Linked DNA regions of Homo sapiens. The protein of the gene in region 3 interacts with the protein of the main gene of each other region in a pairwise test. Each region holds a gene or a part of one and is shown on either strand. Other genes may lie near its edges.

Region 1 (7,797 bases), about 120 Mb from region 3:
TCATGCCATTTGAGGTTGGCTGCTAGTCCCTGACACAGCAAGGCCTATGGGGCTGGGCAGCCCTCCTGGATGCCCAGGCTGGTGCAGGCTTTCCAAAGACGACCTTCATCCAGAGTGATTAAAGAGCATGTGGCCTCCTGAGAGCAAAGGGGCCCAGAATGTAGTTTCCTGACATTGCTTGGAGATGCTCACGTGCATGATTATTCATTTGGGAACAAATGGAGAATGATCTCCATGCTGGGAATACTGACTTCGTCCGGGGCATCCCAGAGGGATCCTCTGTTTTAGGGCCAGTTTAGTATGGGCTGAGGAATCAAATAAAAGATATAGTATCTTTTTCTCCACACTCTTTGGCTCCTGGGGCAAATAAACCTTAGGGCAGACACACAGAACTGGATTATTGCTGTTGAAAACAGGCAAGGATTGAGGTTTTTTATGATTTGAGAGGCAGGCTGTTGAAACAGCCCTTGGTTTCTCTTCCCACTTGAGGAAGCTGGAGCTTGGTTCAATCAGAGGGAGTCAGGAGACTGAATTGAAAAATCAGGAAACCAACTCTGGTTCTGGGTCATTTCATTGACTTTCACGGTAAGAGCAACAAGTTATCTACCTGAGAATGGTCATCATCTAGTATATGATTATTAAAAATAATAATGACCGGCCAGGCATGGTGGCTCATGCCTGCAATCCCAGCACTTTGGGAGGCCAAAGCAGGTGGATCACGAGGTCAGGAGTTCAAGATCAGCCTGGTCAATATAGTGAAACCCCCATCTCTACTAAAAATACAAAAATTAGCCGGGCATGGTGGCACATGCCTGCAGTACCAGCTACTCGGGAGGCTGAGGCAGGAGAATCACTTGAACCTGGGAGGTGGAGGTTGCAGTGAGCCAAGATCGTGCTACTGCACTCCAGCTTGGGTGACAGAGCAAGACTCTATCTCAGAAAAAATAATAATGATAATAATGATCACAACACAATAACAATAGTGGTGTCTTCTTTTGCTGGAGGCTTCTTCACTTTTGAGAGCACTGTCATTCATAGTACATCCTGTGTCCCTGGCTGGTAGGTATGGCATTTTACAGATGGGTAAAATAAGACTCAGCATGGGTAGCTGCTTTTCTAAATAGCACACAGTTGAGTATTATGTAACTGTAGGAATTTATATAATGCTTTGAGACACTGGGCTAATATATTGAGACTTATGGGATTACAGCTGTAAAGCTTGTTGTCTGAGTCGACAGGGGCATTCAGAGATGGGTAGAGACTCTGAGTCTCACAGCTTCTACTGTCTTCAAGATAAACTCAGTGCCAGGAGCTTCCCTGTGGCTTCCATAGCTGTGACTTTTAAAGTGTTTGGTCCCAGGCATGCTGACACCAGCCCCTCAGAAAACCTATGCCCTTGGAATGCATGATGAGAGCCAGGAGCAGACGGATCTCCAACAACAGGGGCGCTTGCTGCCTCTTCATCTCCCTCATCTTCTCCCTTCCCCTGGTCTTAAGGAATCCCTTTTCTCCACCAGGAGCATTATTCCCTTGCTTCAACTCCAAGCATCCCCTTCCTACTTCTTTTCCTTTAGGGGTAAGAAGAATCTCTCCCACAACCCCTGATGCCCCTCTCCACCACAGTAGTAAAAATAAGACAGGACTTGGCACACGATTCTATTGTTTTCATAATCTATAAAGGGTACCAATCAGCTGCAGGTCATTGATGGGATAAAACAGCAAACAAATGGATACATGAATGAATGAGAGGATACATAACTAGAAATAAAATATTTAGAATGCAGACAAGTAAAATTCCTGGAAAAACAAGATTGTGGACAATGGCTTACAGCTGAGCTGAGCATGGCATATACTGCTCTGTTGGGTGGAGGGCACATGTGTGCAGGGATGGAAACCTGCTAGAAGGTTCTTGCACCAGCCTGGAGAGGAGGTCCAGGGGCAGGATAAATAAAAAGGAAGGAACAAATGCAAGTGGCTGTGAAGAAGCAAGATTTGGAAACAGACTTACATGGAGACTGATGAGAAGAAGGAGTCAGAGATGGTATGGTTAGTAGAAGTTGGAAATTTAGGAGATAAAGTTTGCAGGTACTGATAGGAATGTGAATTTCAGCACAAAGTGGTTGTGGGATATCCAGGTGGAAATGTTTGCCAGCAAATGAAAATTGACTATTAGCATCTGGGTAGGAAGTCAGGACAGGTGGAATACAGTTAGCGTTTACACAGTCCTTACCGGTTATCATTAATGTCCTTTAATAGGGGCCCTTTGAGGTGGCCTTGTTAAGGAGCCACCCCAGACCAGTGACTTCCATCTCTCTATGCTTTTGCTTTCACTGTTCCACTTCTAGGATGCCGACCTCTGGTTCCCATAAGTGATTAGGTTTTACTCGCCCTTTCCAACTTCCCTTTGATCACAAACCTTCCATGATCCCCCTGGTTGGAATGAATTGCAGTCTTTCAGTAATCCCACAATACTTATATTGAGATTTAGGATTTATGACTCTAGAAAGCAGGGTAATAATACATGGCAATTCAATAGGCTGTGGCTTGCATGAAATAGTTTCTCCATTTGTTGAAAGAATGAGATTGGCACCATTCAACAGCTTCTCTTATTAAAAAAAAAAAAGTGTTTTCCAAAGCTAAGGGATGACTCAGGGTCATGGGGCTGTGGTGAGCGCTTGCATCAGCATCTCTGTATTTTGCTTAGAAGCTTTAGGGGTGGTCCTTATATAACAGACACTCTCAGAGTTGGGAGGGAACGCCTGGTCTGACTGCCCACACAAATGAATGAGCATTATGCCTGCCTGGTGGTTATTCAGCCCCTGCCCGAGCATGTCCGGTGACAGGGAGCTGTGTCCTGCCGGCCTCGATGGCTTGTTAAGGAAGGGCTGAGTGGATGGTTGGGGGAGGATAAACAGTGAAGAGCACAACTTTGCTTTTCCCATTGATTACTCAGTCTGGGGCTTGCTGATGGTATCATATGAGATAGGTTAAATCATGCTATGGCAAAACAACAACAACAACAACAACACTCAACTCTTGGCAGCTTAAAACAACACAAGTTTCTTTACTGCTCACACTCTAGTCCATCATGAGTTGCCTGGGGGCCTCTTTCCTTACTTGTGGCTTCAGGATGATGGAGTACCCACCATCCTAAATGCTTTTTGCTTTGTCAGAGGAAAAGGAAAAGAGACTCTGGAGAATTTTGTATCAGCCGTTAAGTGGTCTGGCCTTCTCTCCACATCACTTCTGCCCACAGCCCATCAGCAGCCCCAACCCCTGAGAGCTGGAAAATGAGACCTTACCACCTTCCAGAAGGCTGAGTGCTGGGTGTGAGTGGAGGCAGCCATAATGGCTATGGTGCAGGCCTCATGCAAATGGCCTGGCTGATTTCCATTTGGTCTAGAAGGAAGAGGTTCCTTACCTCTTCCACATCATTGTGACAAGAAGCAGCTGGTGAAGTAGGCAAGGATCAGTGTGTGTATCAAAAGGTCACTGTCACTCCTAAAAGTCTCTGGATTAATTGGAGGAGCCTCTTCTACTTGTAAGGATCCTGTTCAGTGTTCTAGGCATAAGAGGTCATCTAGAGAAGCCACCTGAAATGGCAGAATAAATTCTTCAGCTTTTTTCCCAACCTCCAAAAGGCTGGAGACCTCCGTGACTAGCTGGCCTGCATTAAGCAGTTTTCCTCTACGTGGAGACAGTGATGAATCCTCCCTGCTTGGAAGGTTGCAGCCTCCACAATAAATCAAGCCCCAAAGAGAGAAGAAGCAGTGGTGATTAAGAGTGGGACCTGAAATCCAAACTGTAATCAGTCAGAGATTTGTCATTGGAATTGGAGATGGAGATGGAGAAATAATGGATGATTCAGGCCCACGGTGGCTGTCTCTAAACATGTTAATTGCCTCAGCTTAAGTGGCTGAAACTGATGATTAGAAAATGTAGAGATGTGCATAGCAGAACTCACAGCCACTGCCTCCCGGGGCTGGCGCACCCAGCTCTGAGAAAGTGGGCTTTCTCTTTGAATGGGAGGGGGTAGGGTGATGCCTTGGCTGGGGGTAGATAGGATTGGTTATCACAGCTCTGAGGTCCTATAAGGAGATACAATAGGGACATGGCGTGCCCCCTCCTGCCAGGTGGTTGAGATTCACAGGGGCTGGTGGTACCTGCTTCACCCACCAAGGGTCACCACCTCTGGAATGATGGCTCCTTTGCTCTGATTCCTCAGGTGATTGCCTGAGAAGTCTAAGGTGAGGGTTAATGCAATTCATCTACACTGGACTTTGAGAATAAAGAAGGTGCCCCATAGTTACAAAATGTCTTACACGTGTGCTGTGCATGTCTTTATTTTTAATGTGTGCGTATGTGTTTCTCCCTCTGTGTCTGCCATCTGGGGTAGTTAGCTCATCTAACTAAATTGAGAGACCAAAGTCATGGTCCATACCCAAATGGGATGGTTTGAGGGAGTTTGTTCTCCACCCAAAGAAATCTTAGTTTGTAACCACAGGCTGCATATCTAATGCCAGCCAGCCATGTTGTAAACATATGCACTTGGTCATTTCAATGCACTTTACCACGTATTTGTTAAGTCTCTCCTAACTGCCATGCATTGTACAAAGGCGCTTTGCAAATGGAAATGAGAAAAGAATAGACGTTGGCTAAGATGGCTTGCAGAATGCTGGACAGAGGAATCTATCTGTATTGGAAGGTGGGAAGAGGATGATGACTCCACAATGGATAGATTATGGAAAGTACCCCTGGGAGGGGGTCAGAAAACATGCTGTGGGGCCCAGAGGTACAGGGGAGGGTGGAGGAACAAGGGACGGTAGGCAGAGCTCCCAATAGAAAGTGTCATTTGAGGCTGGGGACGGTGGCTCGTACCTGTAATCGCAGCACTTTGGGAGGCCGAGGTGGGCAGATCACCTCAGGTCAGGAGTTCAAGACCAATCTAGCCAACATGGTGAAACCCCCTTTCTACTGAAAAATATGAAAATTAGCTGGGCGTGGTAGCAGGCGCCTGTAATGCCAGCTACTTGGGAGGCTGAGGCAGGAGAATTGCTTGAACCCAGGAGGCAGAGGTTAGAGTGAGCCAAGATCACGCCACTGTACTCCAGCCTGGGCAACAGAGTAAGACTATGTCTCCAAAAAAAAAAAAAAAAAAAAAAAGGTAAGTGGCATTTGAGATGGGCCTTGAAGGATGTTTCAAAAGATTTTGATGGGAAGAACAAAGTATTCATGAGAGCCTAAACAATACAAAGTATATTTATATATTATATAAATAAATATATTTAGTAATATGTATCTATATCTCCCTATATAACTGGGTAAAATGGTGCATTTATATCTGTAGCCTTCCCTACTGCTGGTCTAGGTGCCAAATTTCTTCCTTACAGTTACCCTTTAGCTTACAACTTTGATTTCTGATAAAATGAAGTTACCCTTGGGAGCAGCTTTTCAATGATTTTAAGCTCCTTTTACCCATTTATACCTGTGTGGCTGGATTGGAGGTGGGAGAGCTTAGTCTTCCTGCTGGTCACACTTCCCACCATCAGGCCTTTCTTGGTCAGGATCAGTTTCTTCCCTCTTCCCCCAGAGGCTACACTGTCCCTCTTCATCATTGCTAATTGTTGTTTTTCTCGCGTTCCTCTTGCTCCATCCACCATCAGGCAAAATGCCACTGCCTTCTGAGGCTGGCCATTTTTTCCTGACCCTCCTATATTTGTGATAAATGTACATATTCACTTTAGGTTTGTGAGTTACTATAGGAGGATACACAGGGGCCAGAAAAACAAGAGCAGGGCAGTTATGGATTCATTAGAAACCCTTGCAGTATTTCTCCTAGTGGTCCTGCCTTGGGTCAGATGACACATGGGCTGGACCAGCTCTTCCAGTCTTCCCAGTGGCCATCCATGGGTGACCCCTAGGAGCAAGCGTGGTATTCTGTTAATAGTAAGCAGTGCACTGAGGGCTTGTGTCATTTGGGTTTGGGTATAATAAAAAGAGGAGTGCCATAAAAAGAAGAACTTACCAGAAATGGATCTGTGTTGGGGCAGTGGCTCTACGTTGCTGCAGGGAGGGCCTTTGTGTCAACCGTCTGTGAGAGGCAGTGTCCAGGCAGAAGTCAGCTGCCATAGAAGCAGGAGTGGCGTTTTCCTCCTCTAACTCAGGGCCGTGTCTCTGCTCCCTCTTCAGCTGGTGCTGCCAGAATACTCCATCCATAGCCTCTTCTGCATTATGTTCCTGTGTGCGCAAGAGTGGCTCACGCTGGGGCTGAATGTCCCTCTACTTTTCTATCACTTCTGGAGGTAAGTCAGACTGGGACTGGTATATCCTTCGTCTTTTCTGCCAGGGCAGCCTGCTCTCCAGTGATGATGTCACCCAAATAGACAGCTTCTATTGCCTTCCAATCATCCCTTCCTTTCTGGGTCTCTCTCTTTAAAGCCTGTTCCCAAACTGCTCTTAGGCAACAAGTCCAATAAGGAAAGGCCCTTTTTGTTGGTTTCATTAACCACAACCCCATCCCTTGTAGGTCAGTGTTAAAAGCATCTATAGTTGCATTCACAACAGCCAAAGAGTGGAACCAACCCAAATGCCCATCAGCTGATAAATGGAGAAACAAAATATGGTATATCCATACAATGGAATACTATTTGTCAATAAAAAGAAATGAAGTACTGATACATGCTACAACATGAAGCCCTAAAGAAAGTATCAGTGAAAAAAGCCAGACACAAAAGGCCACATATTTCATGATTCTATTTATAGGAAATGTCCAGGAAAGGCAAATCTATAGACAGAAAGTAAATTCATGGCTGCCAGGGGCTGGGAGGGAATGAGAATAGGGAATGACTGCTAATGGGTCAAAGGTTTTCTTTTTAGGGTGATGAAAATGTTCTGAAATTAGATAGTCATGATGGTTGCACAACTCTATGAATATACTAAAAACCACTGAATTGTACAGTTGTACACTTTAAAAGGGTGACTTTTATGGTATGTAAATTATATCTTAATAAAAAAAAAAGCACCTACCAGATGGGCTGGATTTTCTGGGACAGTTATAATTTCATAGATTCTATTCCCTGCTAAGACCATGTGTCAGATCATGTGATTTTTGGCTTTTTGTAAAATAGAGTCACCATATGGACACAGGAGGCAGAGGTGGGGGAATATCTAAATAGTAGAGAAGGTATTTGCGCAGATAAGTTGCCTGCCCTTGACCCTTTGCTGCCAGAGCATTGGACCCCAAAGTGTTTTATCATTTTTATTGTACCATAAAATCTGGCTTGAATTTAGCCACACCTAAGACATGCACTCCTTCATTTAGAAAACATACGGGATACATAGTACACGCCAGGCATTGTGAGGGATTTCACGTTAAGTGTAAAGCAAAACCTTTACCCTTAAGGAACGTACATCCTAGTGGTGGAGGGAAATATGTTCTTAACAGACATATGAGGAATACTGGTAGGAGCATAGAGAAAGAAGCACTTAAATTAGACTCAAGAGTGACATTGGAAAAGCACATTCCAGGGCGAGGGCCCAGCATGTGCAAAGGCCCAGAGTTAAGAGAACACTTGTTGTGTTTGGGAAACAGTAGTTGCTCAGTGAGGTTGGATGTAGGGTTCTTGGAGGGAAATAAGAAGAGACAGGGTTGGCAGGCAGCTGAGAGTATGGTATGGAGGGCCTGAAATGATTTGATGGGGAAGGTGGAATTAATTTATTCTCTAGGTAATGAAAAATGATCAGAAGCTTTAGAAGAAGACAGTGGCATTACCTGATCTGATTTTTAGGAAGGTGGCC
Region 2 (7,797 bases), on a different chromosome or scaffold from region 3:
CAGTATAAAAGATATGATGCTTACAATTTCTTTTACTGGTATTTAGGAAAAGGAAATATTTGAAATATAAATTCGTGTGCCCCAAACTAATACAACTCAATTCATTTAAATTCACAGATGAATCATATATTGACCAAGTGACCAAACGTAAAGAAATTAAAGTTTAGATTTTTCCTTTTGCCCTAGAGGTTGAACTCTCTTCCAAAGCTGCTTTTGGTGCATTTAATGGGCACCAAAAAATAGCAGTTGAAGAGTAAACATCATTCCTCCCCTAGTTCTTAGTTGTGGCTATAATTTATTATTAGCATATTAGCAGGTTAAGGGGAGCAATTTTGATTCCCATCAGGTATAACAAAATAATCTGGTGAAAAACGGAGGTCATGTTTGTCAAGTCAGAAAAGTGGGGCCTTTTCTTTTTAATGTTAAAACTTCAAATTTTACACGTAATAGCCTATTCTCTCAGCAAAAGCAAATAGCAAGTTACCTGTTTTTTGATGAGAGCCTAATTACATCCTGTTTCATTCTATTTAGGTAGATGAAAATGCTTGAATAGGCGAGTTTTATGTTAACCTTCAATTTATGGATTTAATATATTCTTAGTTGAACCAGATAAAACGCACAATGTCAATGAAATTACTTCAGCTTACAACCATTTATAAAGTATCACTGTTTTCATGTAAATCTGTGATAATGTAGCTATAAAATAATACATTTATAAAAATCAATACATAAAAATACAAATTTCTGTATAAATCTTGTAGTATTAAGGCTCTGTCAATTAAAATCTATAAAATCTATAAATCTTGTAGTATTAAAGCTCTGTCAATTAAAATCTATAAAGGATGTTTTTTATCCTTGATAAGTCATCTGAAGAAAAGTCAGAGAAAAAATTATTTTTTTCTAGAAAGAAGAACATTAAAGGGGATTTAATCTCAACCAGAGAGGCATGAAGTACAATTACTTTTATAAAACAATTTTAAAATAATTGAAATAGTGTCTTTTTGGAACAGAGATAAACAGGTCAAGTGAATGGAACAGAACAGAAATTCCAGAGATAAAGCCAAATCTACATAAGAACATAGGCATTGTGTGTCATGGGGAAATTACAAATGGGTTTTTAAAAATACATGACAACAGTGAAATCACTGGAAGAGAAAATCTACTAAATATCTAACCTGGAGGTGGAAAAATACTTCTCAAGTATACAAGGAGAGTGATAGAAAAATACATAGACTATATAGGCATTAGTCTAAAATTCTAAAATTCAAAAAGCACCCTACACTAACAAAATTAAAAGCAAATAATGTACAATAAATACATTTCTTTTTACATTAGAAATGGTTAATATCCTTAAAACGTGAAGGGGTCTTACAAGTCAAGATAGGCCAACTCGAATGGTCAAAAGACAATTTACATAAAAAGGCAAAAGAAAAAAAAACCACTTGTGAAAAAAATCCAATCTCAATAATAAAGGCATATTAAAATAAGATACCTTTTCAAACTCTTAAAATTGAAACTTAAAAAAATTAACAATTGGTGCCATGGAACTTCTGAGAAAAATATAAAATTGGTAAAAAAATTTTTAAAATCCATTTTTAAAAACATGCACATCCTTTAATTAATCATTTCCACTTTAAAAAAAAGAAGTCTATCTTAAAGACATAGACATGGACTGTTCAAACATTTCTAAGATAGTCTATTGTGCTAAGTATGCAAATTGGAACTAGTCTGGGTCCAGCAATAGGCAACCCATTAAACAGGTTATAAATCATGACATTTTAAAAACCAGACTAGGCAGGCATAAACAATTTTTTATAAAGAATATTTAATAATAAGGGGAAATATTCACCACGTAAGTGAAGAGATATGCTATAAATACTAGCATTCTAAATATTTAATGCCAAAAAATGTGTCTTAAGTCATCTGGAATAGAAACTAAAATATCATCAATGTTTACACTGGGTAGTGAGATGGACTGGAACTTGGTCTCTTTGCGCTTTTCTATAATTTTCCAAATTTTTACAACATATACTATTTTAAGAAAAAGTTATAAAACTACTATATATTAAAATTATTTAAAATATAGCACACCTGTATCTTTGACAATTAACTCCATTTCTTGAAATTTACCCTAATGACATAATAATAGGGAAACTTTAAAGGTGAGCCCATAACTGCTGATGAACCATAAAAATGCTATTGAAGAATATTAATGCTAGGAAAAACAATTTCAGAATGTTAAAAAACAAAACATAAAAGTATAAAAAATGTTACATATGATGTGATTCTAATTTCATGACAATATATGTGTGATAAACATTTACATATAAAACCAGGAAGGAGGCAAAGTAAAAACAAAAATTGTTAGTTGTGTTTACCTGGTAGTTTGATTACTTTGCTCTATGTTACAGATTTTTTTTTAATGAAAATGTATTGCTTTTATAATTACAAATTATAGTTCCAAAAAGTTCTGTAAAGTTTACATACTTGGTTGCTCCATCATCGTATGTTCCCATTAAAACTATTGTTCCATCTTGTATGGCCTTCAGAAACTCAATAAATGGTGCCACATCTGAAGAAAAAGAAAGGGTTTAGGGTTTTAAAAAATGACTGAATAAGCATCACGATAATCTCTGAAAGTAGTATTATAAAACATGAAGTATCTGTAAAGCAATAATTTCCAATGTAAAGTAATCCAAAAGACAGACAAATCTCATAAAGAGTTTAAAAACTGTTAAATTTGTCCCTTAACATAATCCCACTATCAACTTACAATTTCCCATTCCTGATTTATCCTGTGTCTTTCGTATTGATATTCCTGGGGCTAAGTGAAAAAAATCATAGCAAAGTAAAGCATGACTTACGAAGTAAGAAATTCAGAGATCTCTCAGATTTGAATAATTGGGATCCTGAAAACCTTATTCTGGGGTCCATGCATAAGCTTAAGGAGGCATGGGAGGTGTGTGGACTCCTTAAGTGTATGTAAAATTGTATGGGCTGAGCACAGTGACTCACATCTGTAATCCCAGCACCTTGGGAGGTCAGGGCTGGGGGATGGCTTGAGCCCAGGAGCTTGAAACCAGCCTGGGCAATATAGTGAGACCTCATCTCAACAAAAAAATTTAAAAATTAGCCGAGCTTGGTGGCACATGCCTGTAGTCCTAGCTACTCAGGAAGTTGAGGCAGGAGAACTGCTTTGAGGCCAGGAGGTGGAGGTTGCGGTGAGCTGAGATCACACCACTGCACTCTAGCCTGGTTGACACAGCAAGACCCTGTCTCAAAAACAAAACAAAAAAACAAAAACGAAACGAAAAAAAGCATAACAATGTTTGTATGGGTACTTTACTAGAAAGAGGATACACAGCTTTTCTCCGATTCTCAAAGATATCTGTAATTTTTAGAAAATCTAAAAATACATATACACACAGATTTAAAGGCTATTTTAGGTATATCATTTGCTATAAACTGGGAGAAGGAATATGTTAGGTGATCACTAAAAGCCAAACTAATTGTAGCAAATATTACAGTCATTACTCATTTGATCTACCAAATCAAAATCCACAAGGACTTCAAAATAAACCACTTCAATGACTATAAACTGTTGATGCCAGATACATAGGTCAGATTCTAAAAACCACTTGACATCTTGAACTCTTTACAATGTCTGGGTTCCTTATAGCTCTGAAGTCTAATTCTACTCCAAAACTGGGTTACTTCAAATGTACTCAGTTTCTTTCCACAGCAAAGATGCCAAAGATTTTCGATAACTGATTATATTTCATAATAATAGCATTTTCAATTCAAAAAGATATAACAAGGCAGCTAACAAACTACTTCCATTTAAATGCAAAAGTGGCAATAAACTGCAACAATTTCCTAACTAGAAGAATGCTGCTAGCGGTAATTAATCTACCTGTGACAAGAGAAGTAAGGAATACCAGAGCTCCTGGTCACATGACTGATTTCAACAACAGCTTTGTAAGACTCTTTCTATCAATAAATTTTGGCAGGACCAATTTATGCCTTTAGAATCTAAAATTGATGGTCCCATTTTAAGTTTATACAGCTTTGACAGCTATGCAATGTTGTCCTAACATTATTTAATAACAAAATAATACACGGCATCTTTTGTTTTTTTGAGACGGAGTCTGGCTCTGTCGCCCAGGCTGGAGTGCAGTGGCAAGATCTCGGCTCACCGCAACTTCTGCCTCCCCGGTTCAAGGGATTCTCCTGCTTCGGCCTCCCAAGGAGTAGCTGGAACTAAAGGTGCATGCCACCATGCCCGGCTAATTTTTGTATTTTTAGTAGAGACGGGGTTTCGCTGTGTTAGCCAGGATGGTCTCCATCTCCTGACGTCGTGATCTGCCTGCCTCGGCCTCCCGAAGTGCTGGGATTACAGGCGTGAGCCACCACGTCCGGCTACATACCATCTTATTACAAGCTGAAGATATGTTGGAAAAGCTAAATTATCTGAGAACTCTTAACATGAATTTCAGGAAGCCTAATAGCTGTTGGCTTCTAGGGAATATATAAATGGAATGGGGAGGTGCAGGGGAGATCCTCATACTGATCAATCTCCCAAATTAAAGAATCAAAAGATAAACCAGTGTTGGCCTCCCTTCAAACTGGAGGAAAAAAACCCATTCTTCCGGGCAGCGTTCTTCTTTGGGGTGCCAGTCCCTTGCCTCTGCGTGCTGGTAACTTCTTCCCACTCCTTGTGGGACTTCCAAATATGGAAGGGGAAAATATCTGTGGATTGCTTTACAAGAAAGAAAATTCTATTTCTTCCCTCAAATATTCATCTACCTAAAAAATTAGCTGCAAGTCAGAGGGTAGAACTGTGATGAATAATAGGACTGCTGTTCTAAAACTGATAGTTTATCTTGTCTTTCTAATGCTCCTAATGCTCCTAATGATTTATTTTTGAGACTAAAAAATCACATTTAAAAAAAAATCAATTCCTATCACTTAGGAATGCTTACATTGGTTATTCTGGTCTTCAAATTACTTTTTTTTTTTAAATTTTAGACACACTTAAAGGAGCCCAAAACTTTTGAATTGGTTGTCCTGTAGAAAACAAGATGACTTTTTTTAAAAAAATCTCAATTTTGATATTACTATCTTCAATTATACACCACAAAAATTTTTTTCTAAGAAGAAGAAAGTATATAAAACATGAATGATAACTTAAATACAGCTGGACATTTAGTGAACAGAAAGTAAGGGAAACAAAATGAACTAACGCAAATAGCATCATCATTCTCTCATTAATGGGCTACATTGTATTGAGGTGATTAAGTCAGTGCCAGCAAAAGAACACAGTCATGTTATTTATGCTTACCTCCTCCCCACATGTCAAAATATTTAGTGTCTAATACTTCTCCTGTTTTTCCTAAAAGAGATTAAATTCATATCAAATTATGCATCTGAAATATATCATACACTGTAAGACCAATAATCTCATCCAATGATTGATGTGAATTCATTAGCAGAGAAGATGTGAATTCATTAGCATTAGAGAGATGTGAATTCATCTCAAAGAATTACTTTGAGAACTTAAAATCTGAATCATATGCACCTGAAATATATTTTTAAAGGGTAATTTCTTAATAGAACTTTCTCATTAATCTTTTAAGCCGAAGGATAAATAGAAGTTCATTACTGACTGTAGACCATTCCAATTCGGTTAGATATATTTCATCGTTGTTTCCATATTCTCTTATTTTAAAATTACTCAAAAGTAAACCTTTTACAAAAAAGAAGTATCTCCTTGAATCAGATGCCATTTTCTACATTAAATCAGTTTTTACAATAAAACTTACATTAACTTGCCCTATAAAATGTATTTTTTGCTATTAATGAAATAGACAGATGTTGAACCTTTTACCTAAGGAAATGAAGAAAGCAGAAGAACAAAAATTTACCTCTTGCTGTGAAAGTAGTAAAATATATTTTTCTACACTATGAAACTACAGTGGTTTCTAACCATCCTATATATCTTATAACCATCCTACATAGCTTTATGGAATACTTATTGTACCAGAACAGAGAGGATCAATATGCAGTTAGGCCTCACTTTATGGTTTTATGTTTTCAGATTTGATTTTGAAGGAAAATTTGAGATGTTCAGGATTCAATCAACTTATTCATACTAATTAAGCTATCAGAAGAATGTGGCTGATAATGAAAAATTACAATACATTCTTATTCTTTGTTCCTCCCCCTACACCATCCTTTGTCATTTCATACGCCTTTAATCCTGTCAACCTATCTTCCTATTATGTTAGGATTCCAAAATTTGAAGCAAGATTTTATCAATGTGATGTTAGACTGCTTGGTTTCTGACAATCTCATGGAAGCTCTTGCATAGCAAGTTAGGATACTTTCAAGAAACACGCTATAAATTCTTAGACACCAAGTCTCCACCCATAGATTTTTTGCAGGGCAGGGATGGGACAGAGGGCTTTATCATCAAGAGCAGTACTTTCTAACCTGATCCTCTGATAGTGCATTTTACTTTGGGACAGAAAAATACCCAATGATTACATCCATAAGCTAAAATAATTGTTCTTACCATTTGCCAAGGCAACATTGATCCCTCTTCCAACATTATTCTTAACACCACTCATTAAACTGAAGGGGGAGAAATTGAAATAAATTTAGAATTAAATATTGTACAATAACATATCAGAAAAATAAAGTCTTGCAAAAAAAGTTAGGAATATTATACATATTTTCAATTGTTCAGTGCTGCGGAGGAAATTAAAAAGATCTCTACTAAGTCAGAGAAGACAGTCTAATACTGAATAATTTTAAAGCAATGTCCTTAAATAATATTTCACAAATAGAAATACATATTAAAAAATATTAGGCCTGAAATAATAGACCATTTTTGTGCTACACTGCTTCAGATTATTCTTAAAACATGGACATTAAGCATATGTTCTGCATCATTCTTAAGGTATCAAACAAAAGATAATCTCTTTTCTGCTCTCTTCAATACCAGCGTGACATGAAACAGAAGCGAGATACTACCCCCATCATTTAAATCTAAAAGCAAACAGAGTGGGGGAGCACTCTTTCATGAATGTTTTACCTAATTGTGAACATTCTCCTAGTGATTATCACTGTAAAGTTCGTCTACACTAAGAAATATTGCACTCATGAAATCACTGCATTGAATGACAGTCACTTACGTGGTGACTACCTGAAATAATCGACTTCCATGGGCAGCTCACAGACCACTATATAAAGACAATGACACTGTAAAATGGAAGGTACCAGTGACAAATTTGCTGGTTATCAGTTCAGTTTGTTCAATTGCTCAAATTAGAATTATTAAACTAAAATTGTGAGTTCTTTTAACTCAAAACTTCAAGGTAATAGTAATACTCCCAGTGGTGTGCTGTTAACTATTTAACAACTGCTCTGTGTTTAGGAGAGAGAGGCAATATGCACATATGTGACTACACGTGCACACACTTGTCCTTATATAGACAGAATTATATATACACATAGGTACACAATTTATTATAAACTACTAAAAGATGTATAGCACACAATTTCATAAATAAAATCTACGATGTACTTTATTATAAATCTCAGTCGATTCTCACAGAGTATTTTAGTTGATTTTTCAAACAATTCACATCTGCAGCTGAACTATGGTTGCAATTGATGAATGAGCTCAGTTCTAACAAACGTTGGATCTATGTTAATAAGATAAAATAAAGAAAAACAAATAATGGAGATTCATGTTCAAATTCCACTTGCCTGTCAATGATGACTGAATCAGAT
Region 3 (8,290 bases):
GTAGAGATGGAGTTTCGCCCTGTTGGCCAGGCTGGTTTCGAACTCCTGACCTCGTGATCTGCCTATCTTGGCCTCTCAAAGTGCTAGGATTACAGGCATGAGCCACCGCGCCTGGCCATTCCCCTTATTTCTTAGCATAATGCCAGCATCTTTGTTTGGCAGTGAGGTTAGGGTTTGCTTGTGACACTTTGGAAACACTGTGCAATGAACATTGTGAATCCTTTTCTGAACCTATTTTCTGGGCCGTTAATATTGCTTAATGTTGAAATGATAATATTTTGGATATATTAAGTTTATTTTATTAATATCACCTTTCTTTTTACTTTTATAATATAGCTGACAGAATAATTTAAATGACATATGTGGCCCTCATATTTCTCCTGGACAGTGCTAGCACCGAGGAGGAGGTTGTTTTTCTGATGCCATTCCATTACTTAATCACCCACACAGAACATCTGTCAATCCTCTTTCATATGCATATGCATCTGCTGATTCCAGCTAAAAGAAATTAAACCATATTGATTATTTAGGAAAATGGACTTGGAAGTTTCTGGTAGAAAAGGTCAAAGGAGACACTCACAGTTCCTTTCAAGGATATCTTTAAAATCAATGGTGTAGGAGACCCACTGGCTGGTCAGGAAAGATTCTGTGAAGCCCCAAATGCTGATATTCATGGACCTAGCTCCAGGTTCTGAAGCTAGGCCAGTGAAATAGATGGGGTCCCTGGTGAACGTGTAGGTTTGCCAGCATTGACCTTCGTCTGTGGAGAACCTGAAACCACAATTACAGAAAGATCATGACAGAGGATCAATGTGTACTGGGAATTCAGAAAACCACTCTGGCTTTTTGATCCCAAACCAGACAAAACCCCTTACATTTAGGTGGTGGCTTATTGGCTGACAATTATTTTAACTTTTTTTTTTTTTTTTTTTTTTTCTGAGATGGAGTCTCACTCTGTCACCGGGCTGGAGTGCAGTGGCGCGATCTCGACTCACTGCAACCTCTGCCTCCTGGGTTCAAGTGATTCTCTCTCATGCCTCAGCCTCCTGAGTAGCTGGGATTACAGGAACGTGCCACCACACCAGCTAATTTTTGTATTTTTAGTAGAAATGGAGTTTCACATGTTGGGCAGGCTGGTCTTGAACTCCTGACCTCAGGTAATCTTCCCACCTTGGCCTCCCAAAGTGCTGGGATTATAGGCGTGAGCCACCGCACCCAGCCAACTATTTTAACTTTTAACGTCTGTAGTTAACAGGATAAGGAAGAGATTTGTTCAGAGAGAATATGAAAGTAAATACCTTTACAGAAATTATTTCAAAGGAAAGACAGGAGAGTGACCCAGGTAAGAACTGGCTTTTAAATTAATAAATTTAAGGCTGGCTGTGGTGGCTCACGCCTGTAATCCCAGAATTTTGGGAGGCTGAGGCAGGTGAATCACCTGAGGTTAGGAGTTCGAGACCAGCCTGACCAACACAACAAAACCCCGTCTCTACCAAAACACAAAAAACAAAGCAAAACAAAAAACCACAAAAATTAGCTGGGTGTGGTGGTGCATGCCTGTAATCTCAGCTGCTCAGGTGACTGAGACGCAAGAATCATTTGAACCTGGGAGGCAGAGGTTGCAGTGAGCCAAGATTGCACCATTGCACTCCAGCCTGGGTGACAAGAGCAAAACTCCATCTCAATAAATAAATAAATAAATAACAATCAAATTATTTTATAAGAACTTATACTTCTTTTTTTTTTTTTTTTGAGACGGGATCTCACTCTGTCACCCAGGCTGGAGTGCAGTGGTACGATCTCAGCTCACTGTGGCCTTGACCTCCTCAGGTGATCCTCCCACCTCGGCCTCCCAAGTAGCTGGAACCAAAGGCGTGCACCACCACGCCCAGCTAATTTTTCTTTTTTTTTTTTTGTGGAGACAGGGTTTTGTCACATTGCCCAGGCTGGTCTTGAACTCTTGGGCTCAAGCAATCCACCCACCTTGGCCTCTCAAAGTGCTGGGATTACAGGTGTGTGCCTCTGCACCCAGCTCAGAACTTGTACTTAAGAAGTCATTTTCAATCTAGAGTGCTTGAACGCTTCCATAATAATTTTGTAGACAGAAAGAATATATATATATATATATATATATATATATATATATACATACACACACACACACACATATATATACACACATATATACACACATACACATATATATACACATATATATACATATATATACACATATATATACACACACACACATACATATATACACACACACATATATATATATATGGTTTTTTTTTTGATTGAAATAATATTAGAGACAAGGGACAAGGTCTCCCTATGTTGCCCAGGCTGGTCTTGAACTCCTGGCCTCAAGCGATCCTCCTGCTTTGGCCTCCCAAAATGCTGGGATTACAGGCATGAGCCACTGCGCCCAACCCAGAAAGAATGTTTTTAAGAAGTGACAAATATGTTAGCTAAAGGCAGTCAGAAGAAAAAACAATGCCATTTAATCTGAGTTGCCAATTAAAAGCAATCCTTTCTAGAATCTTATCTATAGTTCTGTCAAATGCAAAAATTTGAATTATAGTCTGTAACATCCCCCCAATAAACTGAAGAACATTCCCCCAGTTGCCCTCTATGCAGACAGTGTGTGTGAGATGAGTTCATGCATACTTAATCACATTGATAGGACGGCTGCTGTGCTCAATGGCCACAATGATGCCTCCAGAATCCAGGATGGTGTAATAGTGGGGTCCTTCCAGCATCTTTGTCCAGGAGTAACCCCCATCATCTGAGATGTACACATCTGGAACCATCACTGAGATGGCATCCCCCACGCTACCTGCAATATAATCCACCATCTCATTAGCACAAATAGGCAATGAAACAGAGAGCATTTACTCCAGAGAGAATAATGTTGAATGAATTTATTCTGATTATTTCCCATCAAGCCTCTTTTAGTAGGAAAGAAAACCACCAAAAACTTCGGAGAAGTTGTGTTGCTCTCTCTGATAAAAGTTGATGAAAAACCCAAAGTGTTGTTATAATGTAAGAAATTCTACCAAAGGAATGTAAAAGCATCCACATTGTTTCTTCTCAGAGCGTTCAAAGCCTGTTGGCTGAGTTTCAGTGTGCTCAGCCACTGTTCCAGTTGGAGGTGGTGAGTGGGAGGTTCCTTACCATGAGCAATGACAATGCCTACGGCATTCGGCTCTGAGAGTGGGGCCATTGGAACATTCAGTTTCTGGGAGATGCTGTAGGAAGCATGAATATGAAGGCTGCACTGTGAAAAGAAACAAAAGCGTAGATTAGAACCAAAGATAAAGATACAATTTCTTTAATCATTTCACAAAACCCTTCCAATAAAGCTTTAAGTTAACCCAGACCTAGGTAAAAGTACTATCTTAACTATTTATTTACTATTTAGGTGTATAGTTCAGTAGTGTTAAGTATATTCACATTGTTGTACAACCACATCTCTAAACTTTTTCATCTTATAAAATACAATCACCAATTAAGCAACTGTTACCTACTTCTTCCTCCTCCCAGCTCCTGGAAACTACCATTTTACTTTGTGTTTTCTATGATTTTTACCATATTACTTTGTGTTGGCTACTCTAGGTAGCTCATATAAGTAGAATCACATAATATTTGTCATTTTGTGTCTGACTTATTTCACTTGGCATAATGTCCTCAAGGCTCATCCATGTTGTATTAATAGCATATGTCAGAATTTCCTCCCTTTTAAAGGCTAAATATTATTTAAGTGTGTGTGTGTATCTGTATCCACACACACCCCACACTTTATTTACTCATTTATCTGTCAATAGACACAAGTTGCTTCTACCTTTTGGCTATCATGAATAATGTTGCTATGTACATGGTTGTACAAATATCTTTTTGAGAACCTGCTTTCAACTCTTTTGGATGTATAATCCAGAAGTGGAATTGCTGGATATGATAATCCTATTTTTAATTTTTTTTAGGAACTACTATGCTGTTTTCTGTAGCAGCTGCACCATTTTACATTTTCACCAAAAGTGCACCAGGGCTCCAATTTCTCCATATCCTTGCCAACACTTTTTAAAATAGTAGCCACCCTAATCTGTGTGAGGAGATACCTCATTGTGGTTTTGACTTGCATTTTCCTAATGATTAGTGATGCTGAGCCTCTTTTTATATGCTTGTTAGTCACTTCTATATTGTGTTTGGAGAAATGTCTATACAAGTTCTTTGCCTATTTTTTATTCAGGCTATTTGTTTGTTGTTGAGTTGTAGCTCAGTGGCATACTCTTGATTCTGAAATGTACTACAATATCTGGAAGCAAATATTTCCTCATGGGTAACCTGTCTCCGTTTATTTTATTTTTGCATTACATCAAAGCCTCTGAACAATGTTTAAAGGCTGACTCTACACAAATAAACTTGATAAGCACCTGATATACTTCAGACACCGTACAAGATGTGATGGTGGTTCGAAATAAGATCCAGTCTTGTCTTTAAGAAACTTAAAGGCTCCAGGTCCACTCTCACAGACCCAGCCAAGTGGACCCCTGCATCAGGCCAGCCCCTGCAGGCTCAGGGTAGGGCCCACCCCTGCACCAGGCTGGCTCCTGCAGATCTACTTACCGGGCTCCAGGTGTTTCACCTGAAGACCCACTTAAAAGGTCCACCCTAGTGGATTCCACTGCCAGGCCTGCCGCAGAGGACCCAGCCTCCAAGCTACCCCCAAAGACCAAGGCACCAGGCCCACCTACCTGCAGAACCTGTCAGTTGCCCCCCCAAGAATCTCTGGATGAGCTACCTGGTAAGGGCTTCCCCTGCTGAAGCCATCTGTAAAGGCCTATGTGTGTAAGAGGACACATAGGCTAAAAGTAGAGATAAAAAAAAGATATTCCACTCAAATGGTAGCCAAAAGAGAGCAGGGGTGGCTATATTTATTTATTTATTTTTGAGACGGAGTGTCGCTCTGCCACCCAGGCTGGAGTGCGGTGGTGCCATCTCAGCTCACTGCAAGCTCTGCCTCCTGGGTTCATGCCATTCTCCTGCCTCAGCCTCCCAAGTAGCTGGGACTACAGGCGCCTGCCACCACACCCGGCTAATTTTTTGTATTTTTAGTAGAGACAGGGTTTCACCATGTTAGTGAGGACGGTCTTGATTTCCTGACCTCGTGATCCGCCCGCCTTGGTCTCCCAAAGAGCTGGGATTACAGGCGTGAGCCACCATGTCCAGCCGGGGGTGGCTATATTTATATCAGACAAAATAGACTTTAAGTAAAAAACTATCACAAGGGATAAAGAAAGTTACCACACAATGATAAAGGTGTCAATTCATCAAGAGCATATAACATTGGTAAATATAAATGCACTCAACATTAGAGCACCTAAATGTATAAAGCAAACATTAACAGAACTGAAGAAAGAGGTAGACGACAATACAATAATAGTAAGGGACTTCAATACTTACTTTCAATGATAGATCATCCAGACAGAAAACCAGTAAGGAAAGAGCAAACTTGAACAACACCATACAAATGGACCTAACAGACATATACAGAACATTCTATCCAATAGCAGCAGAATATACATTCTTTTCAAGTGCACAGAGAATATTCTCCAGGATAGTGCATATGTTAGGCCACAAAACAAGCCTTAACAAATGTAAGACTGAAATCACCTCAAGTATCCTTTCTTTTTTTTTTGAGACGGAGTCTCACTCTGTCACCTGGGCTGGAGTGCAGTGGCGTGATCTTGGCTCACTGCAAGCTCCGCCTCCCGGGTTCAAACAATTCTCTGCCTCAGCCTCCTGAGTAGCTGGGATTAAAGGCACCCGCTGCCACGCCCAGCTATTTTTTTTTTGTATTTTTAGTAGAGACCAAGTCGGCCAGGCTGGTCTTGAACTCCTGACCTCGTGATCCACCCACCTCAGCCTCCCAAAGTGCAAGGATTATAGGCGTGAGCCAGTGTGCCTGGCCTCAAGTTCTTTTCAACTACAACATTATGAAACTAGAATCAGTAAAGGGAGGAAAATTGGAAAATTCACATGAATGTGGAAATTGAACAACATATTCTTGAACAACCAATGAGTCAAAGGGAAATAAAAAAAACTTGAGACAAATGAAAAGGGAAACACAACATATTAAAACTTAAGGGATGCAGCAAAAGCAGTTCTAAGAAGAAAGTTTATGGTGATAAATGTCTACATTAAGAAAAAAGAAAAATCTCAAAAATCTTAACTTTATACCTCAAGGAACTAGAAAAAGAACAAACTAAGCCCAAAGTTAGCAGAAGGGAGGAAATAATAACAGAGCAGAAATAACTGAAATAGAAGTTAGAAAAATAACAGGAAAGATCAATGAAACTTAGAGTTGTTTTTTTTGACAAGATAAAAAAGTGACAAACTTTTAATTAGAATAAGAAAAAAAGAAAAGACTCAAGTAAAATCAGAAATGTAAGAGGAGACATTATAACTTATACTACAGAAAAAACAAAGGATCCTAAGAGACTACTATGAACAACTATACATCAACAAATTGGATAATCTAGAAAAAAATGGATGAATTTCTAGACATATACAGCTTACCAAGACTGTATCATGAAGAAGAAATAGAAAATCTGAACATACTAATATGAGTAAGGAGGCTCAATCAGTAATCAAAAACCTCCCAACAAGAAAAGCCTAGGACCTGATGGATTCAATGGTGAATTCTAGCAAACTTTCTTCAAAGAAGAATTAAGACCGATCCTTCTCAAACTCTTCCAAAAATTGAAGAGAATGGAACACTTCCAAACTCATTTTATAAGGGTGGTATTACCCTGCTACCAAAACCAGACAAGGACACTAGAAGAAAACAAAATTACAGGTCAATATCTCTGATGAACATAGATGCAAAAATTCTCAACAAAATACTAACAAACTGAATTCAACAGCATATTAAACAGATTATATACCATGATCAAGTAGGATCTATCTGTGGAATGCAAGGATGGTTCAACATATGCAAATCAATAAATGAGATATGCCACATTAATAGAATGAAGGATAGAAATCATATCATCTTGATAAATCCAGAAAAAGCACTTAACAAATTTCAACACCCATTCATGATAAAAACTCTCAATAAATTAGGTATAAAAGGGATATACCTCAACATAATAAACCCATTCATGATAAAAACTCTCAATAAATTAGGTATAAAAGGGATATACCTCAACATAATAAAGGCTATATGTGACAAGCCCACAGCTAACATCATACTCAAACAGTCAAAAGCTAAACCTTTTCCTCTAAGATCAGGAATAAGACAAAGATGCCCATTCTCACCACTTCTGTTCATTATAGTAATGGAAGTCCTAGCTGGAGCAATTAAGTAAGAAAAAGAAATAAAAACAAAAAGCATCCAAACCAGAAAGAAAGAGGTAAAATTGTCTGTCTGCAGGTGACATGAGCTTATATATAAAAATCCTTAATCTTTAAAGACTCCACCAAAAATGTTAAAACTAATAAATTCAAAAAAGTTGCAGAATATAAAATCAACATATAAAAATACAATATACACTAACAACAAACTATCCAAAAAAGAAATCAAGAAAATTTCATCTACAATAGTACAAGAAAAAAACTTAAAAAAAAAAAACAAAAAAAACTTAGGGATAAATTTAACCAAGGAGGTGAAAGACTAAAAACTACAAAACATTGATGAAAGAAATTGAAGATGACAAAAAAAAAAAAAAGGAAATATATCCTATGTTCCTGGATTGGAATAATTAATATTGTTAAAATGTCCATACTACCCAAAGTGATCTACAGATTAAATGTAATGCCTATTATTTTGACTGTCTTTTTTTACTATTATATGGTTATAAATAACCCTCTTTCTGTGACAACACAGAACAATCCAAACACGTTAATTCATCAGATGTTTACTGAGTACCTGCTATATTTCAGGCACTGTTTTAGGTACTTAAGGTACATCAAGAACAAAACAACCAGTTGTGGTGGCTCACATCTGTAATCCCAGCTGAGAGGCTGAGGTGGTAGGATCACTTGAGGCCAGGAGTTCAAGACTAGCTTGGGCAACATGGTGAAACCCCATCTCTACCAAAAAGTACCAAAATTAGACAGGTGTGGTGGTACACACCTAGCTACTTGGGACGTGGGAGGATTGTGTGAGCCTAGGAGTTTGAGGCTGCAGTGACCTATGATTATTCCACTGGACCCCAGTCAGGGTGACAGACTAAGACTTTGCCTCTTAAAAAAAATTCCAATGGTATTTTTCACAGAAATAGAA

Evidence for each region. Proteins that work in one complex are often made in the same cells at the same time.
Region 1: the proteins of SORT1 (region 3) and CNIH3 interact in binary tests that used the Homo sapiens proteins (3 or more experiments, as listed by UniProt).
Region 2: the proteins of SORT1 (region 3) and FAM3C interact in binary tests that used the Homo sapiens proteins (3 or more experiments, as listed by UniProt).

Annotation. Positions count from the first base shown.
Region 1 is NC_000001.11:224,724,273-224,732,069, forward strand, and holds part of CNIH3 (protein cornichon homolog 3), read left to right. Parts: intron 1-1,651; exon of another isoform or gene 1,652-3,593; intron 3,594-6,025; exon of another isoform or gene 6,026-6,189; coding exon 6,190-6,302; exon of another isoform or gene 6,303-6,320; intron 6,321-7,797. UniProt on the Homo sapiens protein: Regulates the trafficking and gating properties of AMPA-selective glutamate receptors (AMPARs).
Region 2 is NC_000007.14:121,357,556-121,365,352, forward strand, and holds part of FAM3C (protein FAM3C precursor), read right to left. Parts: intron 6,634-7,797; coding exon 6,575-6,633; intron 5,393-6,574; coding exon 5,342-5,392; intron 2,573-5,341; coding exon 2,488-2,572; intron 1-2,487. UniProt on the Homo sapiens protein: May be involved in retinal laminar formation. Promotes epithelial to mesenchymal transition.
Region 3 is NC_000001.11:109,324,319-109,332,608, forward strand, and holds part of SORT1 (sortilin isoform 1 preproprotein), read right to left. Parts: intron 3,284-8,290; coding exon 3,181-3,283; intron 2,843-3,180; coding exon 2,674-2,842; intron 772-2,673; coding exon 581-771; intron 1-580.